Linked DNA regions of Homo sapiens. The protein of the gene in region 7 interacts with the protein of the main gene of each other region in a biochemical or structural test. Each region holds a gene or a part of one and is shown on either strand. Other genes may lie near its edges. The genes, in order: SOS1, DDX10, KRT2, CCT6A, CDK16, DDX6 and SIRPA.

What was found.
Region 1: the proteins of SIRPA (region 7) and SOS1 form a complex in vitro, tested with the Homo sapiens proteins (one large-scale study listed by BioGRID).
Region 2: the proteins of SIRPA (region 7) and DDX10 form a complex in vitro, tested with the Homo sapiens proteins (one large-scale study listed by BioGRID).
Region 3: the proteins of SIRPA (region 7) and KRT2 form a complex in vitro, tested with the Homo sapiens proteins (one large-scale study listed by BioGRID).
Region 4: the proteins of SIRPA (region 7) and CCT6A form a complex in vitro, tested with the Homo sapiens proteins (one large-scale study listed by BioGRID).
Region 5: the proteins of SIRPA (region 7) and CDK16 form a complex in vitro, tested with the Homo sapiens proteins (one large-scale study listed by BioGRID).
Region 6: the proteins of SIRPA (region 7) and DDX6 form a complex in vitro, tested with the Homo sapiens proteins (one large-scale study listed by BioGRID).

What each region holds. Positions count from the first base shown.
Region 1 is NC_000002.12:39,023,552-39,028,037, reverse strand, and holds part of SOS1 (son of sevenless homolog 1), read left to right. Parts: intron 1-3,900; coding exon 3,901-4,028; intron 4,029-4,486.
Region 2 is NC_000011.10:108,716,525-108,721,010, reverse strand, and holds part of DDX10 (probable ATP-dependent RNA helicase DDX10), read right to left. Parts: intron 1,215-4,486; coding exon 1,126-1,214; intron 1-1,125. UniProt on the Homo sapiens protein: Putative ATP-dependent RNA helicase that plays various role in innate immunity or inflammation. Plays a role in the enhancement of AIM2-induced inflammasome activation by interacting with AIM2 and stabilizing its protein level.
Region 3 is NC_000012.12:52,643,143-52,646,705, forward strand, and holds the end of KRT2 (keratin, type II cytoskeletal 2 epidermal), read right to left. Parts: intron 2,428-3,563; coding exon 2,393-2,427; intron 2,293-2,392; coding exon 1,877-2,292; 3' UTR 1,416-1,876; downstream 1-1,415.
Region 4 is NC_000007.14:56,061,765-56,064,489, reverse strand, and holds the end of CCT6A (T-complex protein 1 subunit zeta), read right to left. Parts: coding exon 2,641-2,725; intron 1,808-2,640; coding exon 1,735-1,807; intron 1,478-1,734; coding exon 1,405-1,477; 3' UTR 501-1,404; downstream 1-500. Other genes in the region: SUMF2 (inactive C-alpha-formylglycine-generating enzyme 2 isoform i precursor), read right to left, coding at 112-178. UniProt on the Homo sapiens protein: Component of the chaperonin-containing T-complex (TRiC), a molecular chaperone complex that assists the folding of actin, tubulin and other proteins upon ATP hydrolysis.
Region 5 is NC_000023.11:47,225,181-47,228,680, forward strand, and holds part of CDK16 (cyclin-dependent kinase 16), read left to right. Parts: intron 1-591; coding exon 592-686; intron 687-784; coding exon 785-847; intron 848-1,098; coding exon 1,099-1,222; intron 1,223-1,402; coding exon 1,403-1,523; intron 1,524-1,631; coding exon 1,632-1,729; intron 1,730-1,813; coding exon 1,814-1,919; intron 1,920-2,000; coding exon 2,001-2,043; intron 2,044-2,198; coding exon 2,199-2,289; intron 2,290-3,386; coding exon 3,387-3,464; intron 3,465-3,500. UniProt on the Homo sapiens protein: Protein kinase that plays a role in vesicle-mediated transport processes and exocytosis. Regulates GH1 release by brain neurons. Phosphorylates NSF, and thereby regulates NSF oligomerization. Required for normal spermatogenesis.
Region 6 is NC_000011.10:118,759,735-118,764,220, forward strand, and holds part of DDX6 (probable ATP-dependent RNA helicase DDX6), read right to left. Parts: intron 3,573-4,486; coding exon 3,478-3,572; intron 311-3,477; coding exon 188-310; intron 1-187.
Region 7 is NC_000020.11:1,918,932-1,923,417, reverse strand, and holds part of SIRPA (tyrosine-protein phosphatase non-receptor type substrate 1 isoform 1 precursor), read right to left. Parts: intron 2,024-4,486; coding exon 1,706-2,023; intron 1,106-1,705; coding exon 773-1,105; intron 1-772. UniProt on the Homo sapiens protein: Immunoglobulin-like cell surface receptor for CD47. Acts as docking protein and induces translocation of PTPN6, PTPN11 and other binding partners from the cytosol to the plasma membrane.

The DNA.
Region 1 (4,486 bases), on a different chromosome or scaffold from region 7:
CCAACATGGCAAAACCCTGTCTCTACTAAAAATACAAAAATTTTCTGGGTGTGGTAACACGCAGCTGTAATCCCAGCTACTCTGGAGGCTGAGGTAGGAGAATCGCTTGAACCTGGGAGGTGTGGAGGTTGCAGTGAGCTAAGATTGTGCCACTGCACTCCAGCCTGGGAGACAGAACAAGACTCCATCTCAAAAAAAAAAAAAAAATAATAATATGATTCCCTAGATGAGTTTAAGTACAATCTCATATGGTAATATAATCTCAGGATTTAGTACTTTTTTTAAAACTATTCAAATAAACTGCCTTTGTACAAATGTAATTGTTACTATTGCACATTATTATTAAATAGGCACTCATGAAAAGCATGGTATTGAATATCACTGGTAACAAGAGGATGCTGCTTTGTTGAGTCTCATTTACATACTAATTGCCACTGCTTTGTCTCTGTAGCCACAATAAGCCACCCTTTTGATGGTAGTTAGCTTGAATTATATTGCACCAGTGCCAAGTTTAAATTAGCTATGTTAAGTAAAAGAAGCAAAAAGTGGTAGAAGAAAGGTCATTTATTACACTGAAATTTATTTTAGAGGCTTGCCTAATGCTATAAAGGTAAAAATGACATTTTAAAAGTATTTCATCAGGAAAGTTTTATGGGTTTGAAATGTACTTTGGGTTTGTGGCTTTTAAAATATTAACATTTTTGAGATACCAGAATATTCTGTATGTAAAATGCTACAGTTAAATAGTAGATAAATGATTCCAAAACTTGAAACATTTTTAGGATAGAAAATCAAAGGATGTCCAAGTGGATTTTTTCTTTTATAAATATTTTTATGTGTATGAGAATTATATATTTTGTCTACCATTAGGTATGTTTTCCTGAATTAAAAATATAAAAAATGTATCCAGGACAAAATATCAAATGCTCAATATTCTGCTACCTGTTAGTTATTTAAGACCGAAAAATTGCCTTGTATCTTACTGACTTGAATTTCTCTGGGCTTTGCTTTTGAGTGATTAAATTCTCAATCAACTCAGTGAACTAATTCATCGTTCAGTGGTGCTTTCATTAAATTTGCCTTAAGGTATACAGCAAGCTTGTCTAACCCCCGGCCCAACACAAATTTGTAAACTTTCTTAAAACATTATGAGATTTTTTTGCAATTTTTAAAAAGCTCATCAGCTCTCGTTAGTGTTAGTATATTTTATGTGTGGCCCAAGATAATAATTCTTCCAGTTTGGCCCAGGGAAGCCAAAATATTGGATACCCCTGGTATATAGCTTTCAATGTTAGATTATCTGCTGCTTTAAAGACTAAACTTGATAATGTTTAATGGTAACATTTTATTTGTCTCCCAGAATTCTGCCATGTGAGAGGCAAATAGTTTCAAATGATAGGGATGGAAGGTACTTTGAGAGATTACCTGGATTCCAGCCTTCAGCCTACTAGTAATATCTGTTAAGTAAAAACCTAGTATCTTTCTTTATGAACCCTGGCCATTGGCTTTCTTTAATCTAGCTGGCCATATTGAAGAACAATATTATGAATAAAAGATATTTGATTTTTGTATTAATATGTACACTTTTAAAGTCTCTTATCCTTTGGAAAATATCTTTCGTTACCCTTTTTATGTTGAGAATTGTTAGGAATAAATTTTTCTGTTTTTTTTTTTTTTTTTTTTGAGACGGAGTCTCACTCTGTTGCCCAGGCTGGAGTGCAGTGGCACGATCACGGCTCACTGCAACCTCTGACCCCTGAGTTCAGGCGATTCTTCTGCCTCAGCCTCCCGAGTAGCTGGGACTACAGGCGTGTGCCACCACACCCAGCTAATTTTTGTATTTTTAGTAGAGACGGGGTTTTACCATATTGGCCAGGCTGGTCTCAAACTCCTGACCTCGTGATCCCCCCGCCTCAGCCTCCCAAAGTGCTGGGATTACAGGCATGAACCACCGTGCCCAGCCTAAATTTTTCTTTTACTTAACACAGTTAAGACTGAAAATTTTCCTAAAAATGTAGATTATGCCTCTAGTAGAAAGTATGGTGAGTTTTTAATAATGAATATAAGAAATCTGGATAATAAAAGCTAAGTATTAAACATTACAATATGGTATTCATTACTTCTAGAATATTTGACCATTAAAGTATTTTAAGTAAATTTTAATAAAAATGGTTTAGAATATAAGTAAGAAATCTGTTTACTTTTCACAGGTCATCAGTGCATGTGGTATGTGCATGCGCATGCATGTAACTGATTTTTATCAATTGAAGCAGAAAGGAATGTGTTGTTGACCTTTAAGGAATACCTGTGAAAAACACAAAATCCTTAAAGTACTAATGTACTAATGAATACTTAAGCTAATTGAAAAGTAAACTTCTAGCCAGGCATGGTGGCTTACGCCTGTAATCCCAGCACTTTGGGAGGCCGAAGCAGGCAGATCACTTGAGGTCAGGAGTTTGAGACCAGCCTGGCTAACATGGTGAAAACTTGTCTCTACTAGAAGTAAAAAAAAAAAAAAAAATCAGTCAGGTGTGGTGACAGACACCCGTAATCGCAGCTACTCGGGAGGCTGAGGCAGGAGAACTACTTGAAGCTGGGAGGCAGAGGTTGCAGTGAGCTGAGATTGCACCGCTGCACCCTAGCCTGGGGTACAGAGCAAGACTCCATCTAAAAAAAAAAAAGAAAAATAAACTTCTTTATAAATCACTTTGAATATTTCATGATTGTGTATCTCAAGTCTTTTCATTCATGGTAGAGAGTAGGTATTCCTAAATTGTTGGATGAAAACTCTATTGATAAAATGTTATTTTATTTTATTTTAATAGACGGTATCTCAAACTCGTAGGCTTAAGCGATCCTCCCACCTGGGCCTCCCAAAGTGCTGAGATTATAGGCATAGGCCATTGCAGCCAGCCAATATGTGATTTCTTAACTTTTCCTTTTGGTAACCAGGAACAGGTTTAAGATGTATGAGTGAATTATTGTGACTCATACATCTGTTAAGTGCTTGCTTGAATCATAGCCACCTTACTGTATTGACAATTAGTTACTGATGACTTAGTTCTTGTTAAGTAGAGACGTTCTGTCTGACACAGATATTTGCCAGTAATAGAAAATATGCTTGAGTTTCAGTTTCATAAATATGTATATTATAGCTTCACTCAAAATCTTAATGTGGATATGGACAAAGTTCTTTATTATACTAATGTTAATTCTGTAGTATAATTACAAAGAAAACCATTTACACTTACATTGTGTGTTACCATTTACAAAGTGCTTTGGTTTTTAATAACAACCCCTAAAAGTAGGCAGGGTAGGCTTTTTATAAGCCTTATTTGGCAAATGGGAAAAGTAAGACTCAGAGATCAAGTGACTTGCCCCAAGGTCACACAGAAGTAGAGTCAAAATTTGATCCTAGATTTTGTAATTGAGATTCCTTCTACTATATTGCATCGTTCTCTGTATATTTATCTTCCTTATCATCTCAATATTATATAACAATAATATAGGGGTCAGAAACCTAAGACCAAATTCCACACTTAAAAAAAAAAAAACCTCGTCTACATGCTTAGTGGTATGCTAACTCTATGATAATTCAGTAGATCGATTATGCTCCCCATTTCTTTTCAGTGGTATGCACCTTGAAAAACTACATATTACTGCCTGTCACAAGATATAACCCATCTTAACACTGCTAATCTTGGTCTTTTAATGTAGAAAACTTGGTTGTGTATTAATAGTAACACACAAGAAAAACACTTTTAAAAAGAATATTTGATGACACATTTAAAATTTTTATTGTGACAGTTGAATAAATGTTATTTTTATCCTTAAATGAGTTTATTATTATTTTATCCAAAAATGTACTACTGGTTCAGATTTGTCATTTTGGCTTTACAGCAGTTAGAAGAAAAAAGTGAAGATCAAGAAGACAAGGAATGTTTAAAACAAGCAATAACAGCTTTGCTTAATGTTCAGAGTGGTATGGAAAAAATATGTTCTAAAAGTCTTGCAAAACGAAGACTGAGGTGAATATTTTTACTTTTTAAAATATCCTTTTTTCCCTGAATATTGTGGTGTAAATTCAGGGATCCCAGTTCCCTCCTCAAGTAAACAATGAAGAAAATAGTTTTAGTGACAAGCCTGGTCTTTTAGAGGAAGTGACATCAAAGCCAAGAGAATTGTTATTGTTTGAAAAACCTTTCATATTTGTGCATTTTCCTTGCATACTCCCAGACAAGACCTCCTGAGAGTCAACTGGTAAGCTGAAGGAGAGACAGAGTAAAATGTATCGGGTAGATTTATGTTGGCATCGTTATTCTGTCAAAGTAAAATTATTAGTGTCCTTTATTTTAGGGATTATATAACTTGAGGCATTAATTCAGATAACATTGCTTCCACTTTCCTGATTATAATATGTGCTACATGTTTTTAGCTTTGGGTCTTGTCCATTTAAACTCTTCTAAATAATTTATTTTAATCTTTC
Region 2 (4,486 bases), on a different chromosome or scaffold from region 7:
TCAAAGGTGCTTCTATAAGATTGTGCCAATGTTTTTACCACTCCCACAGTAAGAGCCCACTGAAGAATAAACATTCCTTCTTTATAGGTCAAAAGGTTTAAAAAAAAAAAAAAAACCCGGCCAGGCACAGTGGCTCACACCTGTAATGCCAGCACTTTGGAAGGCTGAGGTGGGGGGATCACTTGAGCCCAGGAGTTTGAAACCAGCCTGGGCAACATGGCGAAACCCTATCTCTACAAAAATTACAAAAAAACTAGCCAGCCATGGTAGCATGCACCTGTAGTCCCAGCTACTCAGGAGGCTGAGATGAGAGGATCACCTAAGCCTGGGAGGTCAAGGATGCAGTGAGCCATGATCACACCACTGCACTATGGCCTGGGTGACAGAATAAGACCCTGTCTCCTCCCCCGCAAAAAATCCCTCAAATACTAAGCCAAAACAAAACCAGCCATTCTGTTTCATACAATAGTAACCTCAGTTACTAAAAAGGAGCATCTTGCCATAGTAACTATGAGTACCTGTAAGAAACACCAAGACAGGAGGAATATTCAGGCAGTAAGCAATTGAAGAAAACAACCTAACATAAGAAGAATCAGCAAAGAGGCTCACATTCAAAGCATAAAATGTCTATGGTAATCCAGGCAAGGGTTTCAGAGAACGAGAAAACTATAGACACTTAAAGATTTCAAAGAATGCTTATTGGTTGCTCTCTGTCTCCTTTAAGATCAAACTATAGGAAATGGCCAATGTCACTTTAAGGAATTTATACTTACAAATAATAAACTGCTCCCTGATTAACAAGAACTGAACACTGAACTAATTTTCTGCCAAGTCAATTTCATCTTTTCCACTGAGAATCTTTAACAAACAGATTCTTTTAACGTAAGGCAGAGTGGCTTAAACTAAGAATCTCAGAGAACCAGGTTTCAAACAAATTCTCTCTGGCCGGGTGTGGTGGCTTACGCCTGTAGTCCTAACACTTCAGGAAGTTGAGGTGGGTGGACTGCTGGAGCACAGGGGTTTGAGACAGCCTGGGCAACATAGCAAGACCCCATCTCTAAATTAATTAATTAATTCCCTCTAACCTTGAGGATTCACTATTACAACTATATTATGAATACTTACAGGGCATATTCAGGTATAGGTAACTTGCTCACATCAAATACTTCTTTATCCTTCATCAGATATACAGATCGTACATAGGAGACGAAACACTGTAAATTAAGAGGTTGAAAAGTACAATATAATAGAAATTAAAAATGAGTTTAGACCAAAATATAAGAAAATTAGCCAATGGGATAAATTCAATAGTACTGAAAAACCACGAAATAGTTCAGTATATCTCCATTCCATGCACACATGAAAACCTACCTTTTAGAACTGTAATATTAGAAAAAAACTTTGCATTTGGTTTCAAGCCAACCTAACCCAGAATATCTTCTTTCCAAAAGGCTACTCTAAAAGTCAGTATAATTCCATTACAATAAGGTACACCATGGGGAAAATATAGGCTTTGGAATAATATAGATTTGGAATCTATTCAAAGCTTAAACTCTTACTCACTGAGCAAATTTCTTGTTTCTCTACATGTCAGTATCCTCATCTATCAAAAAAGGGATACATTACCTTCTACTTAGAGTGTTATGAGAATAAAATTAGAAGAATGCATGTAGATACCTAGCATATTTTCTGGAATATAGTAACAACAAATGCTAGTTATTGATAATATTTTGTATTATTGTATCAAAAGATAAGGTTTTCAATTAAATAAAATTTTACATATTGAGATTTAATAAAACCATTTCAGGAAAAACTTTATTGCTAAAGCTTTTCTTTTTTATGATTTCAAGTAATTCATCATTAACTTGGAATATTTTGTTTCTGTTAAAAAAAAAAAAAAAAAAAACTATCTTCATACTAGAGTTACACAAACCAGAATATAAACAGGGTCCTGATCCTTTATCAGTTTGTCAAATACACAGATAACAAAACTCATCTAGGTAATTTTTTAAGTTGACTTTTGTAAAGTATATTTAGTTCCTGTTTGCATACTTCCTAAACTTCATGTTTTATCTAGCTTTACACTAATCCTTTCTACCCAACTAATCTCCAAACCATTTTCTGTCTCCATAGGCATAAAAAACAATGAATGGCACCAGTTTAAAAATAATTTTTTCCCCTACAATCATCCACAAGCAATCACCTCAGTTGCTTATCACTTTTGTTCTATCCAGATTATAATCAAAACCTAGAAAATCACTTCTATGAAACTAGATAGCTTGCTGCTGCTGGCAACACAGTTGGCCATTCTGCTAAACCATGCGTGACAACCAATAAATCACATCATTTATTTCAACACACTTTTCTATAATCAGTGTTCTGGAAGGCTCATCCGTTGTATGCACAAACCAGTGAAAAAACATCTTTCCAATGTTTCATATTTTCTGATAGATAACTGAATGACCTCTTAGGCATGCAGTAAGTCATGACATACCAAAATTAATCTAATATTTTTAAATGTGTGTACTACTTCCAAAGCTCCTAGGTTTCAACTGCAAGTTTGAAGGATGTTTGCTAGAAAAAAAATGTACATGTTTGCATGCCTATTCATTTTTAAGAAAAATGAATATTAACCATTTGTTCAAAGATCCTTTAATGAAAAGGTTCTCAGGTAAAGTGAGCTTATAGAAGTCCAACTTGGTATAGCTTACCATTTGATGCTCTCATATTTTGGAATTAATTTCTCCTGATATAACACAGTAGATCTCAAGAAAGCTAGACCTGGAGTTCAGTCTCAGGTCTTCCACTTAATAACTATGTTACTCTAGACAATTTTTTTTTTTTTTTGAGACAGAGCCTCGCTCTGTAGGCCAGCTGCAGTGCAATGGCACAATCTTGGCTCACTATAACCTCTGCTTCCAGGGTTCAAGGAATTCTCATGCCTCAGCCACCCAAGTAGCTGGCATTACAGGCATGCACCACCACACCCAGCTAATTTTTTTGTCATTGTTTTTAGTAGAGACAGGGTTTCACCCTGTTGGCCTGGTTGGTCTCAAACTCCCAGCCTCAAGTGATCCACCCACCTCAGCCTCCCAAAGTGCTGGGATTATAGGCATGAGCCACCCCAACCAGCCATCCAAGACATTTTTTAATTTTCAAGCTAGCATTTACCCATTTGTACAGTCAAATCAATACCACCTACCTCACTGGTTGTCTGGAAGATTAGGTAACAACGCATGTAAAACAGTTTTGTCATAACTAAGTACCTGGCACACAGTAAGCACTTAAATTTTAGCCTCATCATTAATGTTATTCTAAGCACACCAATGATAATTTGCTAAAATATAAAATAAGTTAGCAAAAAATTTAAGATCTCTTCTTTATATAAAACTTACTTCTGGCTGGGCGTGGTGGTTCACGCTTGTAATACCAGCACTTTGGGAGGCCAAGGCAAGCGGATCACTTGAGGCCAGGAGTTTTGAGACCAGCCTGGCCAACATGGTGAAACCCTATCTCTACTAAAAATACAAAAAATTGGCCGGGTGTGGTGGCGCATGCCTGTAATCCCAGCTACTCGGGAGGCTGAAGCAGGAGAATCACCTGAACCCGGGAGGCGGAGGTTGCGATGAGCCAAGATCACGCCATTGCACTCCAGCCTGGATAATAAAAGCGAAACTGCGTATCAAAAACAAACAAACAAAAAAACTTACTTCTTTGCCAGGAATAACAGTTTCAAAACCATTACATAAAACCCTAACTATTGAATGTTTTTCTGCTCAGGCTACCCTATCGACTTAGGGTGACCTTTCTATAACTCTTCTTTATATTCTTCCTCCCACCTCATCTATCTGCTGAAATAGAATCCAACCTCTGAATCCCTACTCTCTGGCTCATTGCTGATATGCTATGGGAGATGCAAAGATCTTGTAAATGCAATAAATGGCAATAAAGGACAGGTGAAAATGATAAGAACTCAAATATCTGTTAATTCAAAGATTAGAAAGATTGGAAAGCATAATGAAAAATAATTTCACATCTTTTACCGAAGAATCTACTGTGGAATATTCTAAAAACTTTAAAAAAAAAAAAGTTTAACTAAAATAGATTTCTCACCACAAGTATGTGAGGTAATACCTATGCTAGTTAGCTTCATTTAGCAATTACACAATGTATATTTGTTTCAAAACATGTTACATACCAGAAATATAATTTATCAATTAAGAAAAATAAAACTAAATATTGACTTCTTTATGTATTTGCTAATCAAGATCTTTAAGTCCAGAAAAGTAATTGGGGAACAACAAGTCATAAACGTAAGTTAAAATCTCATTCCTAAAGATAATTTGGCTGCAGTTCTATGCTTTCTAGAAATTTAATCTAATGTAGGAAGATATTAATCTCACAGTCAAGAAAGTACAATCAGGAGTTATAGCAATTTTACAAAAGAAATAAAAACTTAATAATGTTATCAAGTATTAGAAATCAG
Region 3 (3,563 bases), on a different chromosome or scaffold from region 7:
CCTTTTAAAAAATGAATAAATTGGGAGTGGGAGACCTGGTTTCTGTGTCCACCCTGGGCCTTACCTTTTTCCTCACCTAAGTGAAAAGTTCAAATACACTGATTACCAAAGCTCCTGTCCAGCCTCAAATGTCTGGGACCAAGTCCCTGTTAAAGGTTGTGTTCATGTCTACACTATGTACATACCCGAAAACAGCCAGCTCCTCACACCACTTCTTCCCAACCTGCACCCTCTCCCCACAGACCTCTCCCCACGACTGAGGCCTGGGTGGTTCTCAGGGACCTTCTCTGATCAGCGGATCACTTTAGAATGCTCAGCCTGGAGTCTTGCCACCTTGCCACCTGCAGCCTTCAGAGCTGTTCCTGCAGCACCCTCATACCTGGGTCCTGGCTGGTCTGGAGGCAAGTGAATGCATCTGTTCTCTATTAGAGCCGTCCCTGCAACCTCTGGGAACAGGAAGACGGTCACAGACTCAACTAAGGACTCTCCAAGGTTTTAAAGCTGGGGTGGAGTGGGAGAAAAAAGGACCCTCCAGGAGTGGTTCTGAGTGGCTTTAAGCCACAGCTACTATAACCAAACGCCACATACAGAAAGCTAAGCTGACCTAGCCTGAGCCACCAACTCCCATTTGGGCAACTCTGGCCTGTCTAACACCAACCCCAAGCATGCCCAATCCCACCTGCCCAACCATTCCTGAACTCCCTGGAAGCCCTGCTCAGGTGACATGGCCTTCCTGAGGAAGGGGCTGAAGGCATCTTCACACCCACAGGAGAAGGCCAACCTGATGGCAACATCCATGCGACAGGCCCCGGGGGCTGCGGTGAGAGAGGAGAGAAGGGCTTGTTTGCTGAGTGTGGTGGGACTCCGCTGACAGGAGGGGTGTCCTGTGAAAATAGAAGTGGCTGTTTTGGAGGCCACTTTAGAGTCCTCCAGACTCTTCCCAGGTATCCTCCTCCAGGCTTGCTCAGAGCCCCCGCAGAGACAGAGGCCAGGACCTACATCAGGCTGAGGAAGGTCTGCCTTGGAAGCTCGGAGCTTGGAAACTCACCACGATGGTGCCAGGGGCTCAGCGGTTTTGCCCTGAGGAGAAGTGATCCCGGGCCAAAGCCTTTGTGGAAAAGGGAGAGGGCAGTCTGTGGGAAATGCTCAGGAAGAATGGGTTTTTCTAGAAAAGAGACTCTTCCACAAATCTACCTGTCCACCTCCCGGCAATGCCATGGCCCTCAAGTCTGGTAAATACTTTCTGAGAACCACACACCCATCCCCAGGCTCCCATTCATCCAGAGGCTGGCGCCTGGGCTTCCCTCAGGGAGGCACGCTCCTCACCCAGGAGCCCCTCCTTAATGCCCAAACCTCCCTTGTCCATGGCTGCCCACTTCCACCAAGGTTTGACATCACGCAGACAGCACATGATATGAATTGCAAATGAGGTTTATTATGAAGACCCCCAGACCACAGCACTTCCGAAAGCAGAGTGGACAAGAGGAGCTATATACACAGAAACACATTTCCCCCCAGCACTGCCAGGCTTAGAGATGAAATCCCTGGATGGGCCTGGGTCCTCAACAGAATACACATCTGGAAAATGGGCAATGCAAAGAGGCATGGTGGGGGCGGGAATGGGCATGGCTAGAAGCACAAACCTAGACAGCACAGATTCCGCCCCAGAACACAGAGGCGTCACTGGCTCTAACTAACTGGTTTGGAGAGAAGATCTTTCAAAAACTGTATGTGGACATTCTTTTCCCTCAAAGTGCCATCAGAGATAAATGACAAAAATTTAACTTGCTGCCAGTTAGAGGTACAGAGACAGGCTTCTACATTCTGGAGTGGGAGAGTCTGGGTTGGGAGAGTCGGTGGTGGTGGGGGCTCATCTTTATCTAAAAGAGAAGGTCACGCTGGAACCAAAAGCTTCACCTGAGCTACCCTTTACAGAGCTAGAACCCCCACCTCCAGAGCCATATCCTCCTCCAGAGCTGGAGCCTCCTCTAGAGCCACCTCCAGAGCTGTGTTTTCCACCTCCAGAGCCATATCCTCCTCCAGAGATGGACCCTCCCTTAGAGCCACCACCAGATCCGTATCTTCCTCCAGAACCACCGCCAGAGCCATATCCTCCTCCAGAGATAGAACCTCCTCCTCCACTACCGCCTCTGGAGCCAGACTGTCGGCCTCCAGAGCCATAACTGCTGCTTCCAGAGCTGTATCCTCCTCCGGAACTGGACCCTCTACCTCCAGAACCTCCAAAGGCAGCCTTGGATGCCACATTTGATGAAATGGTGCTGCTTGTCACAGCTGCAGAGAGAGGTGGTGTTACCACAGAGATTATGACTGCCTCTCCCTGCCTCCACCTGACACAACACCCCATGGAACAGGACCACACCCCATTACTTACACACAGTCACATTGCTGCTGAGGTCTCCAGACATCCTGTAAGGGAGAGAGAAAAAACAAGTTGTGGTGGAACACTTAGGTTCTGTATGCATGTTGTTTTACCACTTCCACCCGCAAATGTGCAGTTTAGCCTCTCTAAGCAGCCACCAGGGCTTACACACCCCACTTTCTTCTATGCTGCCAGGTCACACAATGACGACAGACCCCCTTCCATTTATGCACAACCTTGCATGTCAATCCCTCTCAATTTTTGCTCTGATAAAAAATGAACAGTTGCGTGGTTGATCCAAGGTCACTGAAAAGCAAATTCACTTCCTACTTTGCAACCCATTTGTGTATTTAAATCCATCTTGGAGAGTCTGTTATTCAGAATCCATGCCACATCAGAAATTATACAATGAGGCTGCCTGTGAACATTCAGTTCAGAAAGAACTGTGACTCTGTAGAGCCTCCCCATTCCTCTCTTCTTCCCACCCTCTTCAGCTTCAACTGAAAACTTTCCCACTTCCTCTTACAAGCTGGGCATAGGAGGCATTGCCTCTAGACAGGGACAGAGCAACCTCCTGAAGAAAGCCACTCCCTGTTTGTCATGCTGGCTTGCTGATGGCCTGGGGTAGCTTTTCCCCTTCCAATTGCTTCAGCCAGATTAAGTCACCCAAGATGCTGATAATACGGACAAAGGTCTCAGACTACAGAGGAAGCAAAGGGTGCCTCTTTGAAAGTTAGCAAATGGTTCCATTTGTCACTCCAGAAACCTGCAAAGAACTGGGGCTGGCACCTGCTCCGGTCAGCACGTCCCCACCAGTCAGCACATTCCGAGACATCATCTCCCCCATTCTGGGTCACCCGGTGGAGGGCACAGAAGCCACTCACCCTATGGACCTAGAGACCAAAGTTTCAGACTGTCTAGGACTAACCTGTTTTCCCATGATTTTGTTTTCTCTTTCAGAAAAGACCAGGATGTTTAACTTACTGCTTAGTTTAATTTAATGTGCCTTATGCATCATTTCATGTTGATAAATGTGTAACTCTCCAATCATGCTTTATGTCCTGAGTTTCTGCTTGGGGAACACAGAGAATGTCAGTTCTCAGTTGTCAGGAGGGCCTGCCCCATTCTCTGCTTTCCCTGTCTTTGCCTCCAGCCCTGGCTCTGGGAGAGATGAGAGGAAGGG
Region 4 (2,725 bases), on a different chromosome or scaffold from region 7:
GCTGCAGCCGCATCCCGGAAGCCGGCAGAAGGGCCTAAGGCTCTCTCCCGTCAGGGCGGAGCGCCCCATCCCCTTCCCAGCGCCCCCAGGATGGACGGCCGGTTCACTGACCTAGCTTGAGCCACGCGCCGACCAGGAGCGACAGCAGGGGCAGCAGCGGTAACCCATGCCGGGCCATCAGGACTGCCGCGCTGCGCCGCGTACACCCACGGCCCCGCTGCGCATGCGCCCTCATGCACCGCAGCGGCAGTCGACCCCTATGCACATGCGCAGGCTGCGCCACCACCCGCCCCGCACCCAATAGTTCAGCAGGGGGAAACTGACGGAGCGAGGCGGAGGACTGGCCACACCACCTTCAGGACCGCCCAGGGAATTAAGGAAAACCACGTTGAGGGTCCCGGCCGTTCCAGAGGCCCCTTCACTACTTTTCTGAACCTTTGGACAGTTTTCATTCCCCTTAAGATTGCTTTTGTGCGTCATACCATTGCAAGAACAGAAAGGAGGTTTCAACTTAACATTTATTGCACAACTCACTTCAGGCCACTGCTGACATCCCAAAACACAGCCTAGTAACACACAACTTCACCTTCAAGGACTGCAGAGATAGACCAACTATATATAAATAATCTCGTGGAAACGTAATTTGGGTGAGAAAAATATGACGCTAGAGACTTTGCGATGAATATTTTGCCTAAGTTCAGAAGCTTGAAAATACAGTTGGCCTACAATCTCAAATTTCACCCAATAACCGTGGCCCTTAGTCACCACACCTTCCATCATCTTTTTACCTCTGCCTGTTCTTGCCCTTTACAGTTGCAGCTCTCTCAACTCCCTTGCCTCTAGTTGACTCCTCTTCCCATTTCCTACAACTTTGTGGCGGGAGCATTTTAGCAAAGCCATTTCAAAGGCGTTCAAAGTCCAACTGATCCAATGCATTTACTCAGAAATTTATACCAACAGGGATGCTTTCAATATTTTAAATTACTTGAGCATTTATATTAGCATAAAAATTTTAAAACCAAATGCTTAACAATAGGGTAGTTGGATAATTTAACATACGTCCACATAAAATTAAACCATTAAAATTTGCTTTTCAAGAAATATTTAATAACAAGGTAAGTAACATATGCTTATCTAACATGGAATTTTATGTCACTGCTGCTAAAGCAAAACATCCTGTTCACTGGATAAAAGACCTGCTTTATGTGTATACACTTCAGTGCAATTTTTAAAAATACTATAATTTCAGAACTTCCAAATTTCAACAGATGCCAGTGTTCTCTCCTTTTTTCATATGGGAAAATTTCTTTCAAAATTATTTGAAGCTTGGACAAAAATTCCACAGCTGTAATCCTCAGGATCACTTTGCAGTCTTCAAGATTCAGATACAGAGGAAGCTTCAATTCAACCTTTCAGAGAAGACATTCCAGCTCGCATGATCTCATCAACCAAGAGAATGTTGGTGGCAATCACAGTGCTGAAAGGGGGACAAAAATAAGATGGCTCAGATGATTAGGAGCCCTAATTCGACTCAACTTCCCACTTCCAACCAAGCTGCACACATTACATCCAATTAAATTTCCCCCTTCCCCTCTACACATCAGAGGGCTAGTTCAGTTTCCATACTTCCAGCTGATCACATTATTCATGGGGGAAAGGAGCAACTAAACAGAGAACACCAAATGAAAAAAGTATGATTCTCTAACAGTTTAGTTTTCATTTTCCCAAACTTACCAGGAGTGAAGAAGCTGTTTCTTTACACAATAGTTATCCCATACGCCTACTTCTGCTGCCACCATTGGCTCACCTAAAAGGCAACCAAATCTTAAAATAAGTTCAGTCAGTAAGAACCAACAATATTGTGTGCAGCTTTGCTTATCACTGATGACTCATTTCCTCCAGTATTAACTATGAGAATTCAAAGCTTCTCTGTTAGCCCAATTTTCTACTCTAAACCATGACCCCCGTCCACAATATTTGATGAATGTCTGACTTATACTTAGAAGTCCTGAACACCCCTCTCTTCTTCTGGATACATTTCTGTTTACTCATACTGAAGTATAGCACTTCAACTATAATCTGACTAAAATGGACTGATCATTTCCCTCATTCCAGAAACCTTTTCTATTAATGTTGACAATAGGTCTTGCACATACTGCATGGAGGTACCTGTTATCTCCTACTTTGTACTTAATTTGTGTTGTTTTGTTACAGGAACCTAAGATCAGGGCTGTCACCATTTCACTAGATTTCTACATCCCCTTTTCTGGCATTAATTGCTATCTTTAGCTGGTTTTCACCCATGAATATAATCACCACATCTATTTTCTTATCATAGTACTTGATTAAAAACTGAGTAAGGCAAATGCAATATGAAAATCCTTCAACATTAATCTGAACCATCTACCACCACTCAACATCTCCAAAATTGTATCCCCAAATTACTCATGTCTACTCGTCCCTTAATTATACCTAGTCATTCCATTTTTTATTAATATCCTATTTTATCCCATTTTAGAACCCAGAGTTCCCTAACAGCACTGGTGTCAAATTGCAAAGCAAAACATTTTTAATCTTTCCTGGCTTCAACTCACACGTATTACATCTAGTTTTCCCTCTACAACAGTTGCATTCTCTTACCTGTGTTCAGGTCCACACCCACAAGCTGACCTGATTCTGAATGTTCTGCTTGAATTTTAACTAATGTTTCCTGAAGGTCAAAACC
Region 5 (3,500 bases), on a different chromosome or scaffold from region 7:
TGGTTCTAAGACCCCCCAAAACACTCTGGCTTTCATGGGAATGCCTGTCACCCACATATCCAGGTAATAATCAGGGTAACCAGGAATCTGTTCCCATTTGGATAAAAGGTAGATGAATTGCAAACCAGGGTTTGGTTCTGAGAACACCCCTGAAAGTGCTCACCAGTTTATTTACTGTAACAATTTCTAGTCAGAATATCACATGGAATGAATTTGAATTGCACTGAAATTTAGTGTGCAAATTCGATTTCACGCGATGCTGCAGGCCTATGTACTGAGGGTTGGAGCCAGGCCCCTTCCCAGAAACCAAAAACAGGTTGTGAAAATCTAGTGTCACATGAGCCTGGGGCTGCAATCCCAGGTTCTTGCTCCATACTCTCCTCTGAGTCTTATTTTCCACATCTGCAACATGGAGACACAACTTTCTTCTGGCATGAGGCGGGTTAGAGCTGGTGGCTCCGAGGCATTACCCTGAACTGTCTAGAGAAAGAAAGAAAACCTGGGCTTGTCCCTTTCTAGTCCTTGTCCTCACCTCTGTCCTGAGGGTAGGACCCTGACTCTTCCCCTGTCCCACTCCCATGCTTCCTGCAGTGTCCCTGCTCAAGGACCTCAAACACGCCAACATCGTTACGCTACATGACATTATCCACACGGAGAAGTCCCTCACCCTTGTCTTTGAGTACCTGGTAAGGTTGAGTGGCAGTAGGTCCCAGGGGGAGGTGAGGAGAAGGCCAGGAGCCATAGGAAGTAACCCTCATTCCTGTACCACCTCTTCTTTCCTCAGGACAAGGACCTGAAGCAGTACCTGGATGACTGTGGGAACATCATCAACATGCACAACGTGAAAGTGGGTGTGGGGCAGGAAGCAGGGGCACAAGGGGGCCCCCACTCACCCACTCCAACCCACAAATCTCCCAGAAACGGACTTTTCCCTTTGGCTTTTTTTGCTAGGAGCCCTTGGAGGGCACTGGGACCCTGTCCTCTTTTGTGTGACAAGGCTCTGGGCCTAGTGTCTGTGTTTGGGAGGGGAGCAGTGCCTGCTGGGGGTCGGGCTAGTGGATAGTCTTTGACCTCTGCCTGCCATTCCTGGGTCCCCAGCTGTTCCTGTTCCAGCTGCTCCGTGGCCTGGCCTACTGCCACCGGCAGAAGGTGCTACACCGAGACCTCAAGCCCCAGAACCTGCTCATCAACGAGAGGGGAGAGCTCAAGCTGGCTGACTTTGGTACCACTGGCCTCCCCTTTCTTATTGGCTCCCCAGCCTCCTACTTTCCCATGACCACTTAGTCTCACTTCCCTTCAGCCTTGCCAGATTTTGCCTAGGACACCCTCAGTCTCAACTGCACTCTCCCCGAGACTTTGCCCATGACTCCCTCATTCTAGCTGTCCTTTCTCTGATTTCCAGGCCTGGCCCGAGCCAAGTCAATCCCAACAAAGACATACTCCAATGAGGTGGTGACACTGTGGTACCGGCCCCCTGACATCCTGCTTGGGTCCACGGACTACTCCACTCAGATTGACATGTGGTAAGGACAGGTGGAAGTGTGGCAGGGGCCATGTGGTAAAGGGGGTGGCTTGGTCACAACAGCCACCCAGCCAGCTGCCTTTCTATTCACTGTGCCCTCCCTGCCCAGGGGTGTGGGCTGCATCTTCTATGAGATGGCCACAGGCCGTCCCCTCTTTCCGGGCTCCACGGTGGAGGAACAGCTACACTTCATCTTCCGTATCTTAGGTGAGGAGGCATGGGCCCTAGGCGCTGTGGAGACACACGGGGAGGACCTGTGAAATGTTTGGGATAACTCCTCTTCCCTACTAGGAACCCCAACTGAGGAGACGTGGCCAGGCATCCTGTCCAACGAGGAGTTCAAGACATACAACTACCCCAAGTACCGAGCCGAGGCCCTTTTGAGCCACGCACCCCGGTGAGGCTGGTGGGTGGGTGGGCGTTAGGGGCCAGAGTGTCCAAACTCATTTTAAATCAGGTCTCTTTGTCCTTGTGGCAGACTTGATAGCGACGGGGCCGACCTCCTCACCAAGCTGTTGCAGGTGAGACCACCTTGGGTCAGCCTTGGGGGTATGGGATTCCAAGTGTGGGGAAACAGGGACCCCCCCCCTCAAACCAGGGGCAGGGTCTGAGGTGGGCAGAGAGACCTACTTGTTGAAGATATCAATACTATCCCCCTCCCCGCACCCCCACTCAGTTTGAGGGTCGAAATCGGATCTCCGCAGAGGATGCCATGAAACATCCATTCTTCCTCAGTCTGGGGGAGCGGATCCACAAACTTCCTGACAGTGAGTGGAGCTGGGGAATGGACCGGCCAGCGTGGGGACTGGGAAACAGGACTGCTGGGGCCAGCTGGCGGGTTGTGTAGGATTCTGGCTGTGCCACCTCTACGTGGGGGGACATCTTGTTCACGTGTGTGATGGGTTGTATTTGTTATGAAAACATTTTTTAGTTTTCAGTTCCTTTTACCTTTCATGAAAAATTTAAAACATACATAAAAATATATGCAATAGCACTTTACTTTTTTTAAAGTAGACATTTCCTTACATGTGCTAAAAAATGCACAAATCATAAGTATACTATACAATGAATTTTCATAAATGAAACACATCCTTGTAACTAGCACAAAAGTCAAGAAACAGAATGTTAAAAGCTCCCCACCCCCAGCTCCCTTGCATCTCCTTCAGTTATTCCCAGCCCCTTCCCAAAGGGTGGCCACTGTTTTGACCTCTAACAGCAAGGATAAGTTTTTTCTGTCCTTGTACTTTATAGAAATAGAATCACATGTGATGTTCTTTTTATATCTGGCTTTTAAAAACTTTTTAATATGGATATTTTCAAATATATGTATTTATATATTAGTCAAAGTAATATGATGAGTCCCTAAGTACTCCAGTGAGTCATCAATTCATGGTCAATCTGGTTTTATCTATATTCTCTCTGATTATTTTGAATCACATCCAATCCCAGACATCATAGCATTTATCCTTAAATAATTTCAGCATATACCTATAAAAGATTTTTTTAAAACAACAATATTATTATCAAACCTACAAAAAACATTTGCTCACTTTCCCTATCTTCCCACTGGATTAATATATAAAGCAAACCCCAAACACCACCCATCACCTAGACTTAACAGGTGGTAATTGCAATACCATAATTCACTTGACAAAGTTAATAATGATTTCTTTGTGTCATGTAATAGTCTATATTTCATCTTCCCTGGTTGTAGCTGGTTTGTGTATGGAATTGTTTGACAGATAAAGGTCAAGCCTCTCAGAGAAGGGGCAGCTTTTTCTAATTCTTCCCATGGGGTCATATGGGGCTGGTCCTAGATGACCTCATGGGTCATCCCCCACTTCTATGTCTCCCCCATCTGTAGCTACTTCCATATTTGCACTAAAGGAGATTCAGCTACAAAAGGAGGCCAGCCTTCGGTCTTCGTCGATGCCTGACTCAGGTAGGTATAGCCCCTTGTCTTCCTCCCTGCCCCACC
Region 6 (4,486 bases), on a different chromosome or scaffold from region 7:
TACAACCTTCTTAAAAAGTCAGTTAATTTACGTAAAACAAATCTTTAATTGATCAACTGAAGAAAGAGCCAAAGGCTTGAAATAATTAGCATAAAGTATATTCACAGATATGAAGATGTAATTACAAATAAAAGCATACTCAAAGGTCACAGGATGGCACTGATTCCAAGTACAGATTTATACTCACCATGAACTTCTGTACACTAAGAGGGAAAGTAGCGGAATATAGTAAAATCTGCCTGTTTTTAGGTAGCGTGAGAATAATATCCTCCATTATCTGCACAAAATCCTGTGACAGCAACTTATCTGCCTGCAGTAGAAAGAAAAGACAATTTTAAAAACAATAAAATAATGTCTAAGGTCTTGGTTAATACATGGTCAAAGAATAAGGCATCATCCAACAAAAGCATCCATGAAATGTTCCTGGTGGAAAACAATAAATTCTCTCCAACACTGCAGAGAGTCAAATATGCAGAAGGGGGCAAAATCTATAATCCCCATCTTCTAGGGGAAAAAAAAAATTCTACACTACACAGACAACCTCCCCCGCTTTCTGTAACAGAATTTAATTAATTTATTTATTTTTAGAGACAGCATTTCACTCTGTCACCCAGCTGGAGTGCAGTGGCATAATCGTATCTCACTGCAGCCTGAACTTCCTGGGCTCAAGTGATCCTCTTGCCTGAGCCTACTGAGTAGCTAGGACTACAGGCACATACCTCCATGCCCAGCTCCACAACAGAATTTTAATGTGATGATTCTCATTAAAGAGGTAGTATGGTGTAGTGTTTAAAAGTACGGGTTCTGGCCGGGCGCGGTGGCTCACGCCTGTAATCCCAGCACTTTGGGAGGCCGAGGCGGGAGAATCACGAGGTCAAGAGTTTGAGACCAGCCTGACCAACATGGTGAAACCCCATCTCTACTAAAAATACAAAAATTAGCTGGACGTGGTGGTACGCACCTATAATCCCAGGTACTCGGGAGGCTGGGGCAGGAGAATCGCTTGAACTTGGGAGGCGGACGCTGCAGTGAGCCAAGATCACACCACTGCACTCCAGCCTAGGCGACAGGGCGAGACTACTCCGTCTCAAAAAAAAAAAAAAAAAAAAAGTAAGGGTTCTGAGGCCGGGTGCAGTGGCTCACGCCTGTAATCCCAGCACTTTGGGAGGACCAGGCGGGCGGATCACCTGAGGTCAGGAGTTCAAGACAAGACTGGTTGATATGGTGAAACCCTGTCTCTACTAAAAATACAAAAATTAGCTGTGCACAGTGGCAAGCGCCTGTAATTCCAACTACTCAGGAGGCTGAGGCAGAAGAACTGCTTGAACCTGGGAGATGGAGGTTGCAGTTGAGCTGAGATCGCACCACTGCACTCCAGCCTGGGCAACAGAGCAAGACTCTGTCTCAAAAAAAAGTACAGGTTCTGGAGCTAAACTGCCAGGTTGAAATCTTGCCTCCTTCATTTCTCAGCTGTGTGGGAATGTTACAGAACTACTCTGTACTTCAGTTTCCACAACTCTAAAATTGTAAAACTATTAAAATTTGGATGTTTACATAATGTAGTAACTACTTTACCGGGATTTAGAAAAAACTTGGCTAAGGCCAGGTGTGGTGGCTCACGCCTGTAATCCCAGCACTCTGGGAGGCTTAGGTGGGCAGATCACTTGAGGTCGGGAGTTTGAGACCAGCCTGACCAACATGGAGAAACCCTGTCTCTGCTAAAAGTACAAAATTAGCCCGGCATGGTGGCACATGCCTGTAATCCCAGCTACTCGGGAGGGCTGAGGCAGGAGAATCGCTTGAACTTGGGAGGTGGAGGTTGCGGTGAGCTGAGATCGCACCACTGCACTCCAAGCGGGGCAACGAGACTCTGTCTCAAAAACAAAACAAAACAAAACAAAAAAGAAAAAACTTGACTTTCAAGTTATCCAGCCACTCCTCTTCTTAAAAATTAAACCTAAACTCTGGCATCTATAAGACAAAAAGCTGAATTCCTATGAATGCCTATCTATTGCATCTGAAGTATAAAACGTATTTTATAAGCAAATTAGAAGTTGGATGTCTACATACTATAGTAACTACTTGACAGGATACCTACCTTATAGGTTTCTTGTAAAAATTAAATGGAAAAAAAAAAAAAAAAACAAACCATGTAAAGCACTTAGTGCTGGTACCCAGTGATTAATAAATGTTCTCTCTCATTACTTAAAGATAAAAGTCTGATTTGAATTAAATCATGTTACCTAAAACACAAACCAGGCCGGGCGTGGTGGCTCATGCCTGTAATCCCAGCAATTTGGGAGGCTGAGGCAGTAGGATCACCTGAGGTCAGGAGTTCGAGACTAGCCTGGCCAACATTGCAAAACCGCGCCTCTACTAAAAATACAAGAATTAGCTGAGCGTGGGTGGTACATAATTGTAATCTCAGCTACTCAGAAGGCTGAGGCATAAGAATCACTTGAAGCGGGGAGGCAGAGGTTGTAGTGAGCCGAGATCACGCCACTGCACTCCAGTCTGGGTGACAGAGTGAGTCTGTCTCAAAAAAAAAAAAATAATAATAATAATAATAAACCTCAACCCAAATGTGAAAATAACCTCATGTCAAAACATTAACAACGCTGATCACTATAGATCCTCCTTGACTTACAATGGGATTATGTTCTGATAAATTCATCCTAAGTTGAAAATATTACCCAAACCTACTGAACATCATCGCTCAGCCTAGCCTCCTTTAAACATGCTCCACTTACCTTAGCTTACAGTTGGGCAAAATCACCTGCAACGCCGTATACTGTAGAGTATCGGCTGTCTGCCCTCAATCATCATGTGGCTGACTGGGAGCTGCAGTTTGCTGCTGATGCCCAGCATCATGGGAGTATCATATAGCATATTACTAACCAGGAAAAATATCAATCTTAAAAATTCAAAGTACAGTTTCTAATGAAAGCTTATCACTTCCACTGAAAAACTGTAAAGTGAACCATCTTAAGTCAGGGACCATCTGTACATGTACAAAACATGGCTAGATCCCAGGACTACAGATTTTAATAAGTTTTTAAAAGGCATTTATAACATGGTGAGATAATACATGTAACAGAGATTAAAAACCAAACAGTACAAAGTAGTATGCACAAAATGAGAAGAGACAATATATATTATATGCTTTTAAAAATTAATCACAGAGCAGAAAGAGACTTAGAATAAATTTGGCATTGAGGTTATTCACTCCTCTACTAAAAAATTAAAACCTAATGTCTGCTATCTCTAAGAAAAAGACAAAATGCTGAATTCCAATGAATGCCTATAATCTACTCCCTCTGACGGGTAAAACACATTTTATAAGCAAATTAATTTAAACTGATTGTTTATGTGTTTATTAGATCATAAACACAAGCAGCTTTTGCTTCATTCACTGGCAGTTATAAGCAAAGCACAGAAAAGTACAGAACAGTATAATGCCAAATGAAGAGACATTACCTCATCCAATACTATCATCTGGACATGATCAACCTTTGCTACTCCTTTCTTAATAAGATCCAGGATTCTCCCAGGGGTAGCAATCACCACGTGCACTATGCAAGATTTAGAAAACATACATTCTCATTAATTTTAATTTGAGCAAAGAGGATAAAGGTTTATAATATTACAGTCCTGAGCTGCTTAATGATAATTCTGAGAAATGCATTGCTATGTGATGGTATAGCCTACTCCATTGTATAGCTCCATTATAATCTTATGGGAACACCGACATACGTGCAGCCGTCACTGACCACAACATTGTATGCAGCACATGACTATCTTTTATTAGAAACAACTAGGCCGGGTGCAGTAGCTCATCCCTGTAATCCCAGTACTTTGGGAGGCCGAGGTGGGTGGATCACATGAGGTCAGGAGTTCGAGACCAGCCTGGCCAACACGGTGAAACCCTGTCTCTACTAAAAATACAAAAATTAGCTGGGTGTGGTGGTGGGAGCCTGTAATCCCAGCTACTCAGGAGGCTGAGGTAGGAGAATCGCTTGAACCCAGGAGGCAGACGTTGCAGTGAGCCGAGATCACACCACTGCACTCTAGCCAGAGCAACAGAGTAAGACTGTGTCTCAAATTAAAAAAAAAAAAAAAAAGAAAGAAAGAGAAGAAACACATTGTGTTATAGAGGTGGAAATAACACAAAAAGGCACAAAGATGTGTTTTAGGATAAAGACTTCCATTTCACCACAGGATGCTTAAAAAATATTTGTTTCACCTCTACATTGGGTGGGGTACAGCTTCCTAAATCACCTGCTGCTTTCAACAGTAGGCATACTTTCTTGTCTTAGGATAATTCTCAATTAATAGCAGAAGGCACACCAGACTTCTGACATAAGAGCAATGCCTCTAATCTAGAGCAGTGAGCCGAGTATTGTTAAAAGGATCAAACAAGATAATTTTTTAAAAACCTATGCAATACAAAGAATGTATCACATAATTATCATATATAATATTCTAA
Region 7 (4,486 bases):
TGGCTTCCATTCTAATCCATTCAAGGGTTCTACTATGTACAGGGCATCAGCCACATTGATAACAGGTGATGAAATATTCCATGGCTGCACTGAAATGCCAATCAGGTGCCACCATTTGAAAACAAAAGAGATGTACACCAACACCACGTTGCAAGGGCTGAGAAAATGATACCTTGACACCCTCACACTCTCTCAGGGGAGCGACAGCATTATCTCCTCCTTACATGAGTATGCATTTTGGCCTAAAGTGTTCCTTGGGCAATCACACAGAAATAGTCACATGTGGGATGGAACATGCACAAGGATGTTCACTGAAGCACTGACTGTATGTGAGACAAGCTGCAAACACCCTGAATGACTCCACCCTGGCTTCCAGTGGGGCAGGCTCCCAATGGCAGCCAGGGAGATGAGGCAGGGGCTAGAAAGAGTAGGGAAGAGGGGCTGGGCCAGTGAGGAATGGGGAGCATGACAACTGTCAGGTGAAGAAGGCAAGAGGCAGGACACCATGAACAGATGGGCCCCCTCTCTCCCTCTTTCCTCCTGTGATATAAATCTATGTCAAAAGATCTATCAAGATGTGCATCAAACTCTTACCAGTGGTGACTCTTGGAGTGTGGGATTTGGGGAAATGGAGCTGACATTAAAATTCTACTTTATATTTATAGACTTCTAGATTGTTCTATAATAAGCATGAATTACTACTTTTAACATTTAAAAAACCCACAAAACTAAAAGTTTAAAAAAGCTGGGTCAGCTGAAATAGAGGCCTCACCAGCGGCGGTATTTGAGCCCTGCTCCTTCGGGTGGGCTGAGACCTTCAGGTCATGGCTTTTGCTGACCGCTGGCTGCCCGTCATGCTCCACCTGGCAGGTGAGCTTCACATCATCCCTGTGGGCAGATACATTCACCAGGAGCCAGCTCATCCAGTTGTAGGTACCATCCTTGTTCTCTGTAACGGTTGAGGCCGTTTCTGTCCGGGACACGTTTCCATTCTCCAACCAGGTCAGCTGTAGTCTCTGGGGGTAGAACTTCCTCACCTGGCAGGTGACATTCACCTGGTTCTCTGCCCTCACGGGCTGTTGAGTAACCTCCAAGGTGGGTGGAACTGAAACAGCACAGGGCAGAAGCTCTGACCTTGTGGCACAGACAGATCACAGGGAGGGCTCCATAACGTAGCTCCCCCACCACGGTGAGGTCATCACCAGGACAGAGCTAGGCAGGCATCAGGTGCTCAGACATTGAGGGTGCTCTTTGCATATGAATGAAATTACTAAGCACAACGCCCAGCACACAGTAGGTGCTCAAGGACTGGTAGCTCCTACTAGGCTAAGAATGAGGGAAATCTATAAGCACCACCCCTGGCATGCAGTTGGAATGTTGTAACTGTAGCAAAATAAAGAAAATCACCAAGCACATAGAGGCTTAGTTCATAGTAGGTACTCATTAACTGTGTTTGCTATCAGTGAAATAAATGAAACGGCTAGCACAGTCCTTGGCACCTGGTGGGTGGTGTGGTCACCCAGCCACTGCCATTAAAATGTTAGTAAGTGGCTGGCACATCTAGGGGCATGGGAGGTGGGCAGTTAGGAATTTAGGTTCCAGGCATTTCAAGCCCTGGAGCAAGAGTAGAGCTGGATGAGTGGAGGGTGGTGGGGGGTGGGCTTGGCGGTCAGGTGTGGGCTTGGGCTGGGTGAGGGTCTTCTACCTCGGATGGTCTCAGACAAGTTGGCAGTCCCACGAAGAGGGTCCCCCTGCAAGGTGACGTGGGCCACCTCGCAGATGACTTGAGAGTGAACGTCCTCGCGGGTCAGCACCACCTTGGCTGTGCTGTGGATGCTGTAGGACACGCTCTCTCCTACGGGGTCCACGTTGGTCTGGAAGTCTGAGAGCTCATTCCCATTTTTGAACCATTTCAGGGTGATGTCTCTGGGTGAGAAGCCGTGGGACTCGCAGGTGAAGCTCACTGTGTGCTGAGGTGTGGCCCTCGCCGCAGGGCCCGATACCACGGGGGCAGAGGGTTTGGCTACAAAAGGACCATCGATAATCAGGAGACATGACTCAGATGACAATCACTAACGATAAGTGTGTGACACGTTAAGAACCTTCTGAGACATTATTTTTTATCCTTCCAATAATGTGGAAGGATTAATGAGGGCGGTGTCCTTATTGTCATTTTACAGAGCAGGATGCAAAGGTTGGGAGAGGTGAGGACCCATGTGAGGTCAGACAGTGTAGGGGCAGGGCCCAGAGGGAAGTCCAGGCCTGAGTTCAAACTTCTCCACTCCACACAGGGTGACTTCCAGCAATTTGGGCACAGGATCAAAATTAACGATCCATCTCATCCTTGGTATTAACTGTTTCTACCCTGCCTCCCCTGGCAACAGTGCCAACCTCAGAGAGAGCGTTTATAGAGGTCAGTGCAGGGAGTAAGCAGCAACGTGGCATCACCATGAGAGCTGGAACCAGGCCGCTCAGCCCATGAGAGGGGCGGCCTGGCACACCCAGCTCCTTGTCTGTAAAATGGAACAGCAGCATTTCTCCTTTCTGGGATGCAGCGAGGATTAAATGAGGCAACAGAAGCAGTTTTGCTTTGGATAAACACAGAAGATGCTTCACAAAAATAAGCAAAAACAGATCTAACTTTAACCCAGACTTTATTCATATCCAAAGCTCTCTCTTCAGGTATTTATGAATTTACTTCATATTTTTCATTTTCTCCACAAATATTCCAGCAGGGTCTAATCTGTGCCAAGTGCTAAATTTGAAAGGAAGGGATACTTTTCTGAATCTGCGGTCTTCTTTGGTGTCAGTTTTAGATAGACACTAAAGATCACCAAGTGTGGAGAAAGCCAAAGTGGTTAATTATCAATTAATTACACAGACACAGGGCGCCCAAGCAGGCAGAAGCACTTCCTGGGTCCTGAAAGCACACACATGGCTGAATCAGAACGCGGGCTGTTTCTCCCTGCAGATGGGTCGTAAACGTGTCTCCAAATTGCTAATCATTACCCCATACCTCCTATCGCAGTCACCAGGAAGCACATATCACACATACTTGCATTTGTAAATATTAACTTCTCCCTCACACCCATCAAACATTTTGAGGGCACAGTAAGGAGGGTGTCACTTGAAGAAGTCAAGTCATTGAGGCCAGCGGCCTGGATGTCCCCACAGGGCTGAGGGGCTGCAATCAGTTCCCATTTATCCAGGGCTTCTCTGGAGCTGGACACTGGCTGCTCCCTCCATGCCCGTCAGCTCTTTAATCCTCACTCCATCTCTGTGAGGGGATCCTCGTGTGAGCCCCTTTTAGGACAAAGCTCAGAGAGGCCCAGGGCCAAAAGTGGATACAAACCCCACCCTGTTAAGAAGAGGGAGGATGAATGCAAGCACAGAGCCTGGTATGCAGCAGGTGCTTAATAAATGACCCCTGTGACTGTTATCAGGAGGTCTGGTCATTACTGCTTCCGAATCTACACATTTATCCTTCAGGCAGCAGAACAAAGCAGAGCAGAAACACCAAGAAAAGGCTCAAACCCTGCTCCCTGTGGCTCATGACAAACCCAAATGATACAAGGAGCAGAAACCACCAAGTGAGGATTCTCTCCCCTTTTCTAAACAATCCCCTCAGGAAACAAGTTTGGCGAATTGGCTTTCAAAACACAAGATCACAGGCGCCTCCCTCCAGAAGAGCCATTTACAGAAGCTGGAAGCATTTTAAAGGAGGAGGGAACAGACTCCTCCGTGACATCTTGGTGTGTCGAGGCAGGGAGGGTTCTGGGGCCGAATTGGAAGGATTTGCTGGGATTCCGGCGGTCATTTAGACAAAAACATTTTCAGGATGGAAGGTTTCCCCACACTGAGGCTGGATCTGAGCAGGGCTTTGTCTGGGGCCCCTACCTTGGCCCCCGAGGCCTGTATCATAAGAGGGGGTCTGGCCAGGCCACTGGGGCCTCCAAAGAGCTGTCCCGGGTGCACGTTGTTCAGAAGCATCCACACCCTGAAAAGCTGTTCTCCCATCTGGCACCCCAAGAGGACCATCTTTTCCAACTTGTCCTCCGTGACCTCTGGGTGTCTATCCCAGGGGTTTTCAGTCCTGACTCTGTATTAGAATCTTCTGGATTAATTAAAAACTTTAGATGCCTAGGCCCATGCCAGGCCAATTGAAGAGGCATTTCTGTGGTGGAGCCTGGGATTTATTTCAATGTTTCCCAGATGATCCTAAAGAGCAGCCAAGATTGAAAACTACCTGAGTACATCCTAAGGACCATTTATCCTTGAGGCCTGGAGGAGCACTAACCCATCTGAGGTTGCATGGCTTCAGCATCACACAGCTCACATCTGTTGAACATTGACTGCAGGCCAGGCGCCTGCTGCCCTAAGCACGCTACAGGATTTAACTCATTCGGTCCCAACTCCTGGTCTGTGAGGTTGGTGTTATCACTGACAAGTGAGGACACTGAGGCCCATGGTGGTGGAGTGCCTTGTC